Linked DNA regions of Homo sapiens: region 2 is linked to region 1. Evidence: fine-mapped expression QTL. Tissue or cell type: whole blood. Region 1 holds a variant in brackets; the other region holds the start of a gene. All regions are shown on one strand. Distances are between the middles of the regions.

Region 1 (8,099 bases):
TTTCACCATGTTGGCCAGGCTGCTCTCAAACTCCTGACCTCAAGTGATCCACCCACCTTGGCCTCCCAAAGTGCTGGGATTATAGGCATGAGCCACCTCGCTCAGCCCCATGTTGACCTTCTAACCTATAGAACTGTAAGATCACGAATTTCTGTTGTTTTAAGCCACCTATTCCATGATAATTTGTTGTAGCAGTGATAGAAAACGAATCCAAGGAGGTTCAGGTTTTAATCTTGAGTGTGCCCTCAACTCTGCAGGGAGTATTGGTCAGGTGGATTCTGCCAGGAATGGCCTGGCAGCTTGGAGGAAAACAGGCCTGGACCATTGAGTAAGTGGCAATGATGGCCCTGGGCCAAGCTGTGGTAGGGGTGAGTAAAGGGTGTGCCTCTCCCCATTCTTGCCATGGGACTTTGCCAGGCCGCCCTGTGCCCTTTACCCATTGCTTCATGTTCCTGAATTCTTTACATCCTCCTGGGGGTGCCTAGTGACGTGGCCAGAGCCTGAATCACGATCCCCATTTTACAGATGGGAACTAAAGCTCAGGGCACCGACAGTGATTTGCTGAGCCTAGAAGTGGCAAGGCATGTGGGCTCTGGCCCCTCCTTCTCTCAGGCTTCTAACCCCACAGGCATCATTCCTGCCCATCCCCAGGACACAGCTCTCAGAGAGGAGGGGCAGCTGAGTGCCTTGAGCCCCGGCCTCTGAGCCATCAGTCAGATTCTGAGCTGTCTCTGCTGCTGCTTTGCTCTGTGGCCACAGGCAAAGGACCTTCCCTTCCAGAGTCTCCTTGCCTATAATATGGGGTAGTAGCATCAGGTCAGGCAAGTCCCAAACCAGATAAGGGATGGACATGCATGTATTTTGTTCATGGGAATACGCAGCCCCTCAGGTGGCATTGTTTCACGGACACATTAGACAAGAGCTTTGGGGCCTGGCCAGCTGGCTGTGCTGCTTGATCGGAATGGCTGTAATGATGAAGCCACCTAAGCCTGCGGGAATGAGGCTCAGGCCAAGCCCTCATCCCCTGCCCATCTGCTGAGAGTCCTCCATTGGGGGGTAGCGGTCAGGGAAGGGTCAGGCACTCCATTCAGAGCTGGGGACAAAACAGAGTTACAGGGATGGAAGATGGAGAAACAAAGCCTCTCACCCAAGGCCACACACAGCTGGGGACCAACCCCGGAGCTCTTTGAAGAAGTTCTGTGGGGGGTGGGTGATTAGGGGTCCCTCGGGTAGGGATAGAGAGCAGCAGAGCCCGCAAACCTGGTCCAAGCTCCTGCTTTCCTCCCTGAGCCTTCCAACCAGGACTAGAAATGCTATCTGCACTCTGGGGACTGTTTTCAACCCACCTGGATGTGACGTGTTCCGCCCAGTGCCAGTCCCCTTGCCGCTCAATCCACTCCTGCTGTCATTCAGAGCAGGGGGCCCGACCAAGTCCACATCGCAGGAGTGATCGGCGCCTGGCCCTGGGTTCTGCGCTGTGCAAGCATGCAGGGAGGGCGCTTCCTTCTCCCCATTCACAGATGTGGTTGTCACTTGGCTGGGGCCCAGGGGATCCCTGAGGAGGTTCTGCTGAATGGACAGGATCTTTGTGTGCACACCCAGCATCGCCATGGGAGCCCTGCCATTCATAAGGCCATGTATAAAACAGGATTTCATTTACTAAACTTGGCTTTTTTGTGCAAGTTCTCAGGCTATATGTAGGGGCCTGGGGTGTGGGTAGGGAGGCTGGAATAGCCTGAGCCACGGGGAAGCGTGGCCTGCATTTTGACCCAAGACACTCAGGCCAAGCGCTGCATCCCCCAGCCTGGACCCTAGGGTCTGATGCCTCAGCCAGGGCCTGGACTGTCCTGGACAGAAGGGCTCCTGGACACCCTGCTACCTCAGGGGCAGGATCCAAAAGGGCATCTGGGGCTGGATGTGGTGGCTCACACCTGTCATCCCAGCACTTTGGGAGGCTGAGGTGGGCGGATCAACTGAGGTCAGGAGTTCGAGACCAGCCTGGTCAACATGGTGAAACCCCGTCTCTACTAAAAATACAAAAATTAGCCAGGCGTGGTGGCACACGCCTGTAGTCCCAGCTACTTGGGAGACTGAGGCAGAAGAATTGCTTGAGCCTGGGAGGCAGGGGTTGCAGTGACCAAGACTGTACCACTGCACTCTAGCCTGGGTGACACAGCAAGACTCCATCTCAAAAAAAAAAAAAAAAGGCCGGGCGCGGTGGCTCACGCCTATAATCCCAGCACCTTGGGAGGCTGAGGCAGGCCGATCACGAGGTGAGGAGATTGAGATCATCCTGGCTAACACGGTGAAACCCCGTCTCTACTAAAAATACAAAAAATTAGCCTGGCATGGTGGCGGGTGCCTGTAGTCCCAGCTACTTGGGAGGCTGAGGCAGGAGAATGGCATGAACCCAGGAGGCGGAGCTTGCAGTGAGCTGAGATCACGCCACTGCCCTCCAGCTTGGGCGACAGTGCGCGACTCCGTCTAAGAAAATAAAAATTAAAATTAAAAAAAAAACAAAAGGGCATTTGGGAGGGGCAGAGCAGGCCACGATGGAGAAACACCCAGAGCAGGGTATTTGGCTTCTGTCTCCTCAGCCTGGAGCCTCTCCCTTGTCCTGAGATGGGCCCAATAGGCTCCCCAACCAACCCCACAGCCACCTCCCCGACTGTGATCACTACACAGGGACTGACTCAGCCCTTCCTTCCCCTCCCAGCCTCTCCTTCCTGGAAATTGCCATCACCAGCGGCCATAGCACCCCCATGGGACCTGGGGGATGGAGTTGGAAGCCCCCTCCGGCAACACTGGCCAGATTGGAGAGACCAGCAGGGAAGCTCCCTCCTACCCCCAGGGAGGCTGAAGCCAGCTCTCCATGGGCACGAAACCTGGAACCCAGGACCCTGGGGGGCAGGTGAGATGACAGGGACTTGGGGTCTGGGAGCAGAGTCACAGGGAAGAGTGGCATCTAGGGGAGGCGCATCTTGGGGGTGCATCTAGGGGAGGTGCTAAGAAGTGACAGGGGTCTCTGGAGGTGCCCCAGTCCCTCTGCTGGGATGCAGGGTGGCAGGGAGCTGAGAAGGTGCTCAGCCACCCTCTGGAAGCTTCTGACGTCCCAGCCTAAGCTCAGCCTGCAGGGCCCTGTGGCCTGAGCCAACCCCAGACCTGGGTTGGATTTTTTCCTTGTTTCTTGCTTCCTTCCTCCCCTGGACTCCTGCCAACTCCAGCCCTGCCCTCCTCGCTCTTCACCCCACTTCAGAGAACTGTGACCCACTGGAGGCTGGGATTTGAGATGAGAGGTCACCCTCGGAGTTGGCTCCAGCTGCTGCCTCTGCCTGGGACCCCTCCTTGGGAGTTGGGTGGCAGGGCCTTGCTGGGGGCACTTCCCTTCGCATCTGGATTTTGGCCTCGGGCCCAGGG[C/T]TATGGGGGTTTCCAGAGTGGTGACAGCCTTGTCCTAGCAGGGACCAGCCCAAGCACTTCCTCCCAGAGCCCTCTGGGAGCGTCCCAGCCCCAAGGCTGTCATTTTGTCGTAGGGAGTAAATTGTGGAGTCAGCAGAGGCTGTCTTCCACACTTTCTGTGCCTTCCAGGTATCCTGTCATTCCTCATTCTGAAAACCTAGGCTTGCATCTCTCTTGTGCCTAGGGCTATGCTGGACTAGAGAAGACACAGGTGGCCAAAGCTGGACCCAGCCCTCAGGGAACAGATAACCTGCGTGAGAAACAAATAATTGATTCTGCCCTTTATCCCTCCCGGGCCAGCACGGAGGGGTTCAGCCAATGACTGGGAATTGAATGAAAAACCAAAGAGAACAGCCATGAGATCTGTCTGCTATGGGTGGGAAAGCAGATGGGAGAGTGAGAAGGGCTTCAAGGAGAAGGTGATATGTGAACAGGGCATAAATGGATGAATAGGAGTTTGCCAGGCACAGAAAGGGAAGGACATTCCAGGGGAAGCAGGCAGAGGCCTGGCAAGGCAAAGGCCAGGAGGATTGCAAGTAAAGTCATGGTATGAGCAGAAAACAAGAGAGGTCCAGTTGCCCATGGCATAGGAGAGGGGACAGGCCAAGAGGGTAGTGGGTAAGCACTGTTTTCCCTGCCCAGCATCCATCTCTCACTCTGGTGACTGTCCCTCAGTTTTCTAGTCTCCAGTGTGACTGGCCCCCAACCCTCAAGCTCTAAAAGTGGGTTTGAGTCCTGTGCCTAGCCAGTCTGAGTCATGGGAATGGCTCCAGCATATGACATCAGAGAGCATCAGCCCAGGAACTTGATGGGACTGTTAGGGTCACAAATGTCAAGATGCCAGCCCAGAGCTGCTGGTGGCCAGCTCTGCCACCCTAAGGGGGGAGCCTGCCTAAGAATAAGGCCAACATAGAAGAAAACAGCACCAAGAGAATGAATCTCAATGACATTGCCTGTGCTCCTGGATCCAGTCATGCCTGAAGCAGTTTCTATTCTACGAGCCAACAAATTCCAGTTTTGGCTTAATACAGTTAGGGTTGGGTCTGTCACTTGCCACTGAGAATGAAGGGCCCATTGCAGAATAGCTAAAGGCAGGTGATCACTCATGAGAGTTGCCGAGTGCTGTGGGAAAGGCAACGATGATCTGTGTGTAGAGGTACAACACCATCAGAACTGCATTTTCTTTCATTTAAATTACTTTTTGAGGCCGGGTGCGGTGGCTCACGCCTGTAATCCCAGCACTTTGGGAGGCCAAGGCGGGTGGATCAGCTGAGGTTAGGAGTTCGAGACCAGCCTGGGGAACATGGTGAAAACCCGTCTCTACTAAAAATACAAAAATTAGCGAGGCGTGGTGGCACGTGCCTGTAGTCGCAGCTACTCAGGAGGCTGAGGCAGGAGAATCACTTGAGCCTGGGAGGCGGAGGTTGCAGTGAGCCAAGATTGTGCCACTGCACTCCAGCCTAGGCGACAGAGTGAGACTCTGTCTCAAAATAATAAAATAATAATAATAATAATAATAATTACTTTTTGATTAGGTAATGCTCTTTCTTTTCTTTTTCTTTCTTTGAGATAGGGTCTTGCTGTATCGCTGGAATGCAGCGGCGTGATCACTGCTCACTGCAGCCTCAACTTCCTGGGCCCAAGCAATCCTCCTGAGTAGCTGTGACCACAGGCACATGCCATTTGCTAATCTTTGTATTTTTTGTAGAGACGGGTTTTCGCCATGTTGTCCAGGCTGGTCTTGAACTCCTGGGCTCAAGCAATTCATCTGCCTCGGCCTCCCAAAGTGCTGGGGTTATAAGGGTGAGCCAAAGCGCCTGGCTGAGGTAATGCTTTCATGTGATTCAGAATTCAGAAGTTGGCTGGATATGGTGGCTCACACCTGTAATCCCAACAGTTTGGGAGGCCAAGGTAGGGGGTGGGGTGCGGATCACCTGAGGTCGGGAGTTCGAGACCAGCCTGGCCCACATGGCAAAACCTCGTCTCTCCTAAAAATACAGAAATTAGCCAGGCATGGTGGTGGGTGCCTGTAATCCCAGCTACTCAGGAGGCTGAGGCAGGAGAGTCGCTTGAACCTGGGAGGCGAAGGTTGTGGTGAGCCAAGATCACACCACTGTACTGGGTGCCTGAGCGACAGAGTGAAACTCCATCTCAAAAAGAAAAAAAAAAGAAAGAAAGAAAAAGAAATTCTGAAGTCCTAAGAGGCAAGAAGTCTCATCCCTGTCCCCCAGGGACAGTTCTCCATTCTGCTATAGCCAACTGGTGTTATCAGTTTCTTGTAAACACTTCTAGGGATATTCTTGCATGAACGAGCAGGGCCCCTCTCATTTTTTTTTTTTTTAACACAAATGTCAATATTTAGACAAGTAGAGTTCCAAAGTACTGCAGGCCCTGGTGGTAGCTGGCGGAGGGCCGTCCTGCTCGGGACTGTGAGAAGCCCTTTCATTGAGCCTCTGCTGTTCATGCTGTTTGACACCTTGCGTTTTCCAGTTAACGTTATATTTTGGAGACCACTCTACATCAATACATAGAGTGTGTCCTCATTTTCACAGCTGCACGGTATTCCAGCACAAGGATGTATGGTAATTTACAGATGCACTTCTTGGCAGAGGGACCTTCAGGTTGCTTCCAGCCCTTTCTCAAGACAGGCCGTGCCGCAGTGAGTCATCTGTACAAAAGCCCTTTCACACATGCACGAGCGCTGCTGCGGAATACATTCCCAGAAGGGACTTGGGAGGACTGGGGGGCAAAAGATACATGCAGTGGTGTCTTATTATTGTTATTTTAGAGACAGGGTCCTGCTCTGTCACCCAGGCTGGAGTACAATGTACAATGGTGTCATCATAGCTGACTGCAGCCTCGACCTCCTGGGCTTAAGCCATCCTCCCGCCTTGGCCTCCTGCGTGGCTGGGACTACAGGCACGCACCACCGTGCCCAGCTTGCAGTGGTCATTTTGTCAGCTCTGTCAGCTTGTCCTTCTTGGAGACTGTGCCAGGTACCAGGCCCCCACACAGTCAACAGGGCTGTTTCTCCTCAGGCTCACCAGCCCCTGGTTTCCACCTATTTTGATTTTTGTCCATCTGAAAGGCAAAAACTAAACAAAACAAAGGAATTTGGGTGTAGTTAGAGTTTGCGTTTCTCTTACGATGCGTGAGGCTGGTCACCTTTTCATTTGCTTAAGAGCCACATGTGTTTCTTTTTGGTGAATGAACTGCAGAATTTCTGCAGAGGTGGTGCCGGGCAGCTTTGGAGAGGGGGGCCTGGAGGGAGGCCAGACTAGAGGCAGAGGCCACTTCTGGGGACAGTTAGCGTAGAAGGGAGAGAAAATTTGGTCCTGAAGAGTGGTGTGAGAGCTGGAGATGGAGATGATGAAGTTGAAAGGCTGAGATTAGGTGATAGGTTAGCCCCCATGGAGGGCCATGGAGGAAGAAGGGGGAGTCAGGCCCAGTCCAGGCTTACAACTTGGGTGACAGGGTGGGGGTGGGGGGAGAATGGAGCCCGCAAGGGTTTTGGGGGCCAGGATGATGTGCTGCCTGCCTATTCTCCACACCACATGGTGATAGACAAAAACACCACTCTGACTGCCACGTGCCCTGTTCGTGTGCTGCCATGGTCACAAACCTGCAGCAGGGCCCCTGCTAGCCTCTTCAGCCTCCAGCCAGTGCTCCATGCCTGCTGCCCTGAACATGTGCCTGTCAGCTGTCGGCGGTGCCCAGCCTCCAGGGCTAGGTCCCTGCACATGCTCCTCCATGAGCCCTGCGATTTGCTCCCTCCACCTCACCTGGCCACCCCCATGCCTCCCGTGGCTCTCAGCTGTGATGTCTCCCCTCAGGGAAGCTTTCTGGACCCCCATTGATGTTGGGTCACCTTGTGATACCGTGGGAAACTCTGGACCATGGACCTCTCCGTGGCGTTGTCATTTGGTTCATGTCCATTTTCCATTGGATCATAGCCAGTCCCCCAGAGTGTGTGCCATGTGGTAGGCACCCAGTGAATATGGATGAGTGGATGGATGGGTGGGTGGGTGGATGGTTGGGTGGATGGGTGGGTTGATGGGTGGGTTGATGGATGGATGAAAAGATGGATGGTTAAGTTCATGGGTGGGTGGATGGATGAATGGATGGATGGTTAAGTCTATGGATGGATGGATGAGTGGGTGGGTGGGTGGATGGAAGGATGGATGGATGGAAGAAAGGATGGATGGTTACGTGGATGGATAGATAGATGGGTGGGTGGGTAGATGAATGGATGGACGGATGGATGGAAGAATGGATGGTTAGGTAAATGGATGGGTGGACGGATGGGTGGATGGTAGGATGCCGGGGATAGCAAGAAGAGGGTGTATGGGAGACACATGTTTAGGAAATAAAAGTTGGGAGCTGGTGACCCCTCCTCTGTGCAGCACCCACCACAACTCCAGGCACCTCTGCCCTTGGCCTGCTCTGGTTTTCTCCATCTGACACACTTGACTCCATCTGATGCTCTGCAGTGTCCACTGTTTACAGGTTTCTGTGCTGGAGTGGCAGCTCTGGGTGGCAGCAGAGATTCTGTCCACTCATTCATTTCTGCATCCCGCTGCCGAGGAGAGACCCCCAACCTGCAGGGCCCTTAGCAGGTGTTGTGCTGTCCCTGCAGGTGGGCC
Region 2 (8,099 bases), 46 kb before region 1:
AGACTCTGCACACGCTGTCCCTTGGCCTGGGACGCCCTTCAAACTGCAGCTCAAAGCTCACCTCCCCCTGGAGTCTCCCTAGCTCTATGGGGCCAGGCACTTTGCACAGCCGTTATCACAGCCTTAATCACACTCCACTGTCATTGGCTGCAAGGTTCTGTCCAGAAGAGACATCATCTTTGCAACCTTGTTCACATAGGAGGTCTTGCTGAAGTGATGTTGTGAAATAAGCAAATGAAAAAAAAAAAAGAAAGAATGAATGACTATTCCATTCCAATTCCGGCTCCTTTCTGTTTCCCTGACATGTCCGTAGCCTGCCCAACCCCAAACACACACAATCTGAGAGCGAAACTATTGGAGCTGCAGCTTATCTGGGGCAGTAGCTGGGATCTGTCTGTCCTGGAGCTTCCCTCTCAGGAGGGTAGCCCACAAGCAGTGCCCACACCCTGAGAGTCCTTGCTGCTGAATATCTGGAAAAGGAGGATCCCTACTGGTCATGGACAGACAGCTGCACCGCAGTGACCATCAGCAATTAATTTTCCAAATCTGAATGGAAAATGTTTACCCTTCTCCCATGAAAATAACACCCTGGCCTCTTTTCTGATTAAAAACTTTATTTTCAGAAGCAGAACTGTTTTTAACACAAAGTTCAAGGAAGCAGTCTGTCCAAAAAGCCCAAATTCCACCTTTCTAAGTGGCTGCCTCTAGACTAACTCCCTTTCAAAGGCTCTAGAACTTTCAAGCAGGGTCTAGAAACTAAGCATCCTGGATTCCTACCCCCGAAGCCCCATCTTTAGAGCTCTCTTCCTGGGGTTTGGACGACTGCCACTCCAAGCTCAGACTTGGTGTCCCAACTTCTCTCCCTTCTACACCTTTACGACAGTTCTATTTCCACAGGAAAGAGACAGCCCGATCTGCCTTCTGAAGAGGCCGTTTCCATGGGAAACAAGAGAGGAAGGGGCTCTGGCAAGCAGTGAAGGCGCCTTCATAGGCAGCAAAGCCGCTCCACCTCCTCCTCACAGTCGTAGAATTTTTCGAATAGCTCAGGAGAAGTGCTGTTGCATTCAAACCACCTCCTCAAGGTGCCCAGGGCCCGGAGGGCATCAGCTTTGGTGGGCAGGGGCTCAAAGGCACCCTCTCTGTCCCCCTTCTCGTCTTCAGTGCCTATCTCCTCCTTACATACTCCAGACCTTGGCTCCTCACCCTCCAGGTCCACAAAGCGGGAAAACTCCTCCAGGCTCAGCCCGCCGGGGACTGGTGGCATCTCAGAGGTTTTGTGCGAGGACGGGGGCGTTTTGCCGGGAGCCAGCCCTTCTTGAATGAAGCTGCTGAAAATGAGCTGAGGAGGCACCTTGGCCCAGGCGGCAGACGCCACGTGCAGGGCGTCCAGCACGGTGATGCCTGCCCCGGCCTCGGCCAGCGAGGTGCCATCCCTCTCGCTTTGGATGGCAGCCAGTTTGCCCAACAGCCGGTGTCGGTAATGGGCCTTAAAGGCCCGGACCACTGAGCTGGGCAGGGGAGGCGTGGTGCTAGAGGCGGCCAGAGGCAAGAGCTTCACGTGGTAGAGCCCAGGCAGGCCTGCCAGCTCCTCCACCACTCGGGCAGCCAGCAGCAAAGCCACCTGTCGGCCCTGCTGTCCCATGTCCCGGTCAAACTGTGCCAACCACTCTAACCAGGGGATGCCCAGGTCCGGGTGGTAGGAGGCAGGCAGAGCCTCACTGCGGATCCCAAAGAAGCATCTCGGGGCAGCCTGGAGCCCACCCAGCAGTACCCGCCGCTTCTCGGTGCCCCTGCTGTTGGCACACAGCAGCACCTGTACTTGATCACATGCACCAAAGCTGCCGGGCACTGCCCGATACAGCAAGGGCAATTCAGCACAGCCAAACACGTCCTCTGGAGAGAAGTCTTTTAGGGAAAGAGGCAGCTGAGCCTGGGATGTGAGCCCCGGGGGAGGTGGCTCAGGGGGGAATGAAGGCGCAAGAACATGGCGGGCCCCAAAGCCGACGTTGTTTCGGCGTTTCCAGCGGACCAGCCAGCCGATGCTGGGCACGAAGTCCTGGCCCATGATATCGGCCAGCTCCTTGGCTTTGTGGAGCAGCATGGGCCCCGTCACGTCCCAGGCCTTGGCCCGGGCAATGTGGTACCAGCAGAGCAGAGCCTCGTCGATCCCGCTGTACTTGGACTCCCGCTTGCGCTTGCGCTCTCGGTTGGCTGTGCCGCTGCACCAGTCCGCCAGCAGCTTCTCCTTATTCTTGCAGATGCGCGAGATCTGGGGCTGGGAAACCTGGAAGCGCCGGGCCACCTCCGACTGGGACATCTTGGACTCATCCAGGAGTTCCAGCACCTGGATCTTCTCGGCCAGGGACAGGGCGTGAAGCTTCTTCTTGCTGCTCAGCTCCATGGCCTCTCCGGGGCACCTGTGCGGGGAGGAAAGATTGAGCGGGTAGAGTAATCTGAGGCCGGAAGAGCTAGGAAAGGAGCGCAGGAGGGAAAAGAGATTAGATGAGGACTTGCGCAGGCACCGGGTGAGACTGGACCCGCTGAAAGAGGAAGTGGCTAGGCCGAGTGGAAGCCGGCTGGCCCCGTCCCCAGGATGCCAGGGCAGAGCTGGGGAGGGGGCGTCTCTCCACTCAGAAGGACAGGGGAGTCTGGGCTGGGGTCTGGCCTCACTCGGGAAGAAGGATGAAAAGTGCAGGGGACAGCTGCAGAGATAACAAAGGCATACGGACGGGGGAGGGCCTGGGACTGGGGCCGAGGGGGCAGGTGTGGGGCTACGGGGCTGCGGGGGAGGAGCCCCCGGGAGGGAGTGGGAGGCGGCTTGGGCTGGATTCAGATGACGCCGCTGGGGGGTGGGAGGTGGGTGGATGCACACAGAGTTGAGGTGACAGGTGTACAGACGACAAAGGGGACAGAGGGTGTCTGAAGGAGCGAGGCTAATTTGGTGCCGGGTCCTGAGAGGGAGGCTAGGCGACGGTCAGTCCTGAGGGGAGCGAGAGGGCAGGGCCGAGGGCGCAGGTGCACGAGCGACAAAGGGCGGGAGGCCTGAGGAGGCTGCGGGCAGCGGAGGGGCGGGGTGTCCCCGCGGGGAGGGTGGTGGCCTGGGAGGGTCCCAGGGCGCGGGAACGAACGCCCGGACCCAGGCAGGCCGGCAGCCGGACTCCGTGCCCTGGCCGGTCACTCCCCCTCGACCCGGAGTATGTCGGCGGGGCGGCCCCAGGCGCCCGCCCGCCCGGCCTCCCGCTCCGCACCCACCTCAGGCGCTGGTCCCGCGGCTCCAGCCCCTGCCCCCAGCCCGGCTCCCGAGCCCCTGTCCGGGCGGCGACAGCAGAACAGGGGAGGGATGGGCGCCACGACCCCGAGGGCAGAGCGGACCGAGGGCCTGCGCGGACGGCGGGCGGGCGGGCGCGCGCACAGCAGAGTCCCGTGCGCGCCGCCCGCGCCGGGCTCTCTCCCGGCTGCGAAGTCCGCGGTGCGGCCCCTCTGCACCCACCCGCCGCAGCCCCGCCCCGGCCCAAGCAGATTGGTCCTCAGTGGCGCCCCGTCCCTCCCCCGGCTAAGTTTCATTGGACGTTGCGGAAGTGGCGGTTCGTCGAGCCCCTCTGGGGGCGGGGCTTCTAGCGCGGAGGGGCGGGAGGCGGAGCCAGGAACCAGCAGGACTCCCCTGGGCGCCTCCAGCAGCCGCCGACCCCGAGGGCCCGACGAGCCCTGTAGGTGGTGTGGTGACCGCCGAGCTGACTTGGCGTCCCAAAGCCTCCCTGGCCGTGACCCTAGACCGCATCGGCTTCTTCGTCTACCAAGCAGGGCTAACAGCCCTCACGGAATTGTTTTGGGAAAACGATGAAAGGAGAAAATGGATGCAAGCTTTAAGCCACACAAAAGCTGGTTACCATGGACAGCGCTGGCTCGAGTCTGTCGGCCACGGAAACACTGCATGCTTGGGCCAGTAATGATTTAGGACGAGTATTTTATTAGATTTGGTACTTTACAAGATTCAAGTTCTTAAACTCAAGATCTGGCATCGTTCCCTTCCCTGCTAACCTTCAGTCCCGAATTAAACGCAGACGTCTTGACCCGCAGCCCAGCTGCTCTCCAGCCTCGCTGCTCCCTCCGCTCACAGCTCCGCATCCTCTGCCTTCCTCACAGGCTTCCGTCCGCACCCCCGTCCTACCGGCTGACACTGTCCAACTCTCCAAGACCCATCTCAAATCCTACCTCCCGCAAACCCTTCCTAAATTTCCTCACCTAGGCCTGCTACAGCGTTCTTATTTTCCACATTTCTTTTCTGGCTCTCGGACTACTCAGCTGCCAAAGCGCATCCATTGCTGTACTCCCTCTCTGCCTGGCCTACTTCAGTGGAAAAGCATGAGGACGGGCTGCGCTCTGCTCCTCACACAATCCCCAGCCCAGAGCACCCTGCTTATTTATTGAACATAACAGTGCAGGCCGGCCTAGGCTTCCCATAGGCAAGGATGACTTTCAGAATGTTCTAGAAAAAAGGATACTTCAGGGGGCCCATAACTGCTTGATTCAAATCTTTCCTTTAAAAACATAAAAACAACAGTTGGACTTCTAAAACACACACTGAAGACATACGCGCTGCCACGTAAGCTCTCCACATGTTCACTTTGCCTTCAGGGAAACTGTGTGCACATCAACGTGCCCTGGGAAAGGCTGCAGGGCTGCACTGCGGGCAGTTCAGATCCTAGAGCACTTGCTCTGGCCTGGGAGCGCTGCAGGCAACTGAAGCCACACAGACCCTGCTCCTGCAAGAACTTTTGTGTGTGTCCCATGGTGATGTCATTAGTTTGCTTATTAATTATATTTATATAAACTTCTGGTCCTGTTTTAAATGTCTGAGATTGCAAGGTCAACTGTTATAAACCTGTCATCACTTCCATCTATGTATCCAAGACTAGGAGAATTCTCCAAATCAACTGAAACATAAAAATAGATGTTAAAGTTGATTTTAACCCAAATTTTGTATTGATCAAAACAGCTTCATTGTTCTTTATAACAAAGAATTGTTATAAACTTGAATTTATGTAACAAAACAAAATAACCAATTTTATATTCGCTTTACATATTGGGGTTCCACAAAAAAATTTTAATTTGGGGGGAAAAAAGCTGTATTTCAAAACATTAAAAAAAAAAACCACCATCATGGAAATCTTAGGATGAAATGGCCTTCTTAATGGAGAAAGGCAGGAGATAAACCATCCAGCAGAGGGCTCTGTGTAAAAACATTTATTTTTACTAATGTTTAGAATACAGGAACTAAAGAAAGAAAAAAAAAAGACACCTCAACTCCAAAGCGACAGTGAGTTAGGGCCTGCCCACGGCCAAGGGGGAAGGCTACTCCAGGGTGTCCTGGCATGGACTGTCCCCCCACTACTTAATGTCAGTGCCACTAAGCAGAAAACTTGAGGAATCAGGGTGTGAAGACCTTACCAGCTGCTAGCGAGCGTGCAAGGGAAGAAAGGGATGTCTATGTGGCTTCCCCATGAGCTGAGAGCCAGGATACACGGGGCAGGTGGCAGAGGCTCCCAATTCAGTTAAGAGCAGGAGGCTGAATGCCCAGGTCCAGGAAGAACAAAAAGGGGATTTTGGAGGTAGGCTTTTTTGTTGTGTTAAAAAACAGGCACATTATCCATCTCCTTGTGGCCCCCGAGCTGCTGGCCTGGCCCCCTGATCCTTCCCCTCTCCCCACAAAACCAAAAGGAGTAGGAAGGGAGGCAGAAGATGAGAAATTCCAAGGGTGGGGAATGCTTCAGTCACTGGAGACCGACCGTAAGAGTGAGCCAGGAGAGCAATGGGAATAACAAGGTGAAGCTACTGTTCCCCCTGGGGTGGGGTGGAATGGGACAGGGCAGAACCAGGAGGGTGACCGAGAACATCCTGACTCCAGAAAAGAACACTCTGTAGCAGGAACACAGGGCCGCAGAGAGCCACTCTGGAGGAAAGAGGTGAGGCTATGCGGCACAGGGGCATGAAAAGCTCCTTGTGGACGTGGCCTCAGCTTGCTCGCTCCCAGCTCCCTGGCCTGGCTTGCCTCTAGAGGACAGGAAAACTCTGGAGACCAGAGGGGAGGCAGAACACAGAGAAGTGAGCTGCTCTCCCACTCTTTCTAGGAGGACACTGTTTGAACCCTGTGATCACCAGGGGCTGGGCCCAAGGCAAGCAGAGTGAATGCACTTAATGGAGAGCAGAGAGAAACTGGGCCACACGCACGCCTAGGGGCAGTGTGTTGCTCCTTTCTCCCTGAGGGCCTGGGGCCAGAGGTGGTCAGAGCTGCCACCTCAGCTTGCAGCTGCCAAAGGCAGGCTGGCACAACCACCCCAAGGTTCTCTGGATTTGTGAAGGAGAGGAGGAAGAAGGGAAAGATGGGTATGAAATATGAAGTGGAGGAGAGAAACAGCCTTAGATATGTCGGGGAGCAGGTGGGTGGCCACATCAAGAGGAGTTCTGGTTCTGGTAGATGGAAGCTTTCTCTTTCAACAGGTCCAGACACAGGTGGCAGCTCCAACTTCCTGCAGAGAGGCAAAATGGGGTCAGGATGGGTCCCACACAATCCCCACCTGCTTGCAATTCCTCTGCTCTTGATACCCCATCTCTATAGCAGGATCAGCTACAGGTAGGACGAGGGATGCTCTGCAGCAGGAAAGTTCCATGGTTTCCTGAGCTGGGATAAACCTCTAAGTCTTCAAATATTATGAAATATCATCCTCTATGGAGATGAAAGAAATAATCATCTAGAGGACTTCAGAATACTGATGCCCAGGCCCTCTTGGCCCTATTAAATCAGAAGTTTTGGGAGTAGGAAGAGGGCCTGGGAAGACAGAAGTTTGTCAAGCACCTCAGTTTTAAGACTTGTGTAGTTTCACTAAAAAACACAAAATAATTGTCCCTTATATGAAAAACAATTGGGTCATTCCTTGTTTATTAATATTGACTATGGCTGAATTCTTCTAATTTTTTTTGAATAAAATTAGTCCTTAATGCCTTGAAATGATAAGCAAAATTATACCTATGCGCATTTGGACATTATTCTAGGGCTTTTATCAGCTCTTCAGAAACAGGTGACTCAAAAATGTAAGTCCTTTCTAACCCAAAGGTCAATACGGTTGGCAAAGTTTTCTGTAAAGAGCCAGAGTGTTAAATATTTTAGGGTGTGTGAGCCACATACAGTCTCATGCATTTTTTTTTTAACTCCCTTTATTTTTTTTTTTTCTGAGACAAGAGTTTCCGCTCTGTTGCTCAGGCTGGAGTACAGCAGTGTGATCTCAGCTTACTCTAACCTCTGCCTCCCAGATTCAAGCAATTCTCTTGCCTCAGCCTCTATAGTAGCTGAGATTACAAGCGCACAGCACCACGCCCAGCTAATTTCTCTATTTTTAGTAAAGATGGGGTTTTGCCATGCTGCCCAGGCTGGTCTTGAACCCCTGGGCTCAAGAGATCCCAAAGTGCTGGGATTACAGATGCGAGCCACAGTGCACAGCCAGTTTTTATATTTTTAAGGGGATTTTCTTCAGGCTAGATGCAGTGGTTCACACCTGTAATCCCAGCACTTTGGGAAGCTGAGGTGGGTGGATCACTTGAGCCCAGGAGTTCGAGACCAGCCTGGGCACCATGGCAAAACCCCGTCTCTACTAAAAATACAAAAATTAGCCGGGTGTGGTGGCATGCCTGTAGTCCCAGGTACTCAGGAGGCTGAGGTGGGAGGATTACCAGATTACCTGAGCCCGGGGAAGCAGAGGTTGCAGTGAGCTGAGATCATGCCACTCCACTCCAACATGGGCAACAGAACAAGACACTGTCTCAAAAAAAAAAAAAAAAAAGAAAGAAAGAAAAAGAAAAAGAGAAAAGAAAAGAAAACAAAACAGCTTGCAAGCTATTTAAGCTGGCTGTGGCTGGATGTGGTCCATAGGTTTTAGCTTGTAGCTTGCTGACCCTGACCTAGAACATCTGATACTTCTAGGGGTTGCCCCTCAGCTGCCTTAACACTACAGTGAGGACACTCGGGCCTGCAGCTCTCCACTACCTCGATGTCCCACAGAACTTTAATAGGAAAGCCATTCTGTAACATAGATCATCTGTTTGAT

The links. PIP is the estimated chance that this variant, and not a neighbour inherited with it, causes the effect.
Region 2: it holds the start of TIGD3, and the variant in region 1 is fine-mapped to the expression of TIGD3 in whole blood (TOPMed, PIP above 0.99).

What each region holds. Positions count from the first base shown.
Region 1 is chr11:65,303,825-65,311,923 of GRCh38, reverse strand. It overlaps LOC105369344 (a long non-coding RNA gene), which reads left to right. Exons shown (of 3, transcript XR_007062727.1): 2 at 2,717-2,911. It also overlaps a transcript of POLA2 not described here. Among named protein-coding and RNA genes, the nearest start is that of CDC42EP2, 7.0 kb to the left of the region's middle. RefSeq lists enhancers at 741-1,348, 1,349-1,956. The variant C/T (reference allele first, on the strand shown) is at 3,418.
Region 2 is chr11:65,350,111-65,358,209 of GRCh38, reverse strand. TIGD3 (tigger transposable element derived 3) reads right to left here and starts at 3,459. Exons shown (of 2, transcript NM_145719.3): 1 at 3,253-3,459; 2 at 597-2,417. The coding sequence starts at 2,401. The coding sequence ends at 986. It overlaps DPF2 (double PHD fingers 2), which reads right to left. Exons shown (of 11, transcript NM_006268.5): 11 at 3,948-6,527. The coding sequence ends at 6,451. RefSeq lists silencers at 2,752-2,941, 3,002-3,171, 3,182-3,241, 3,262-3,581, 3,672-3,731.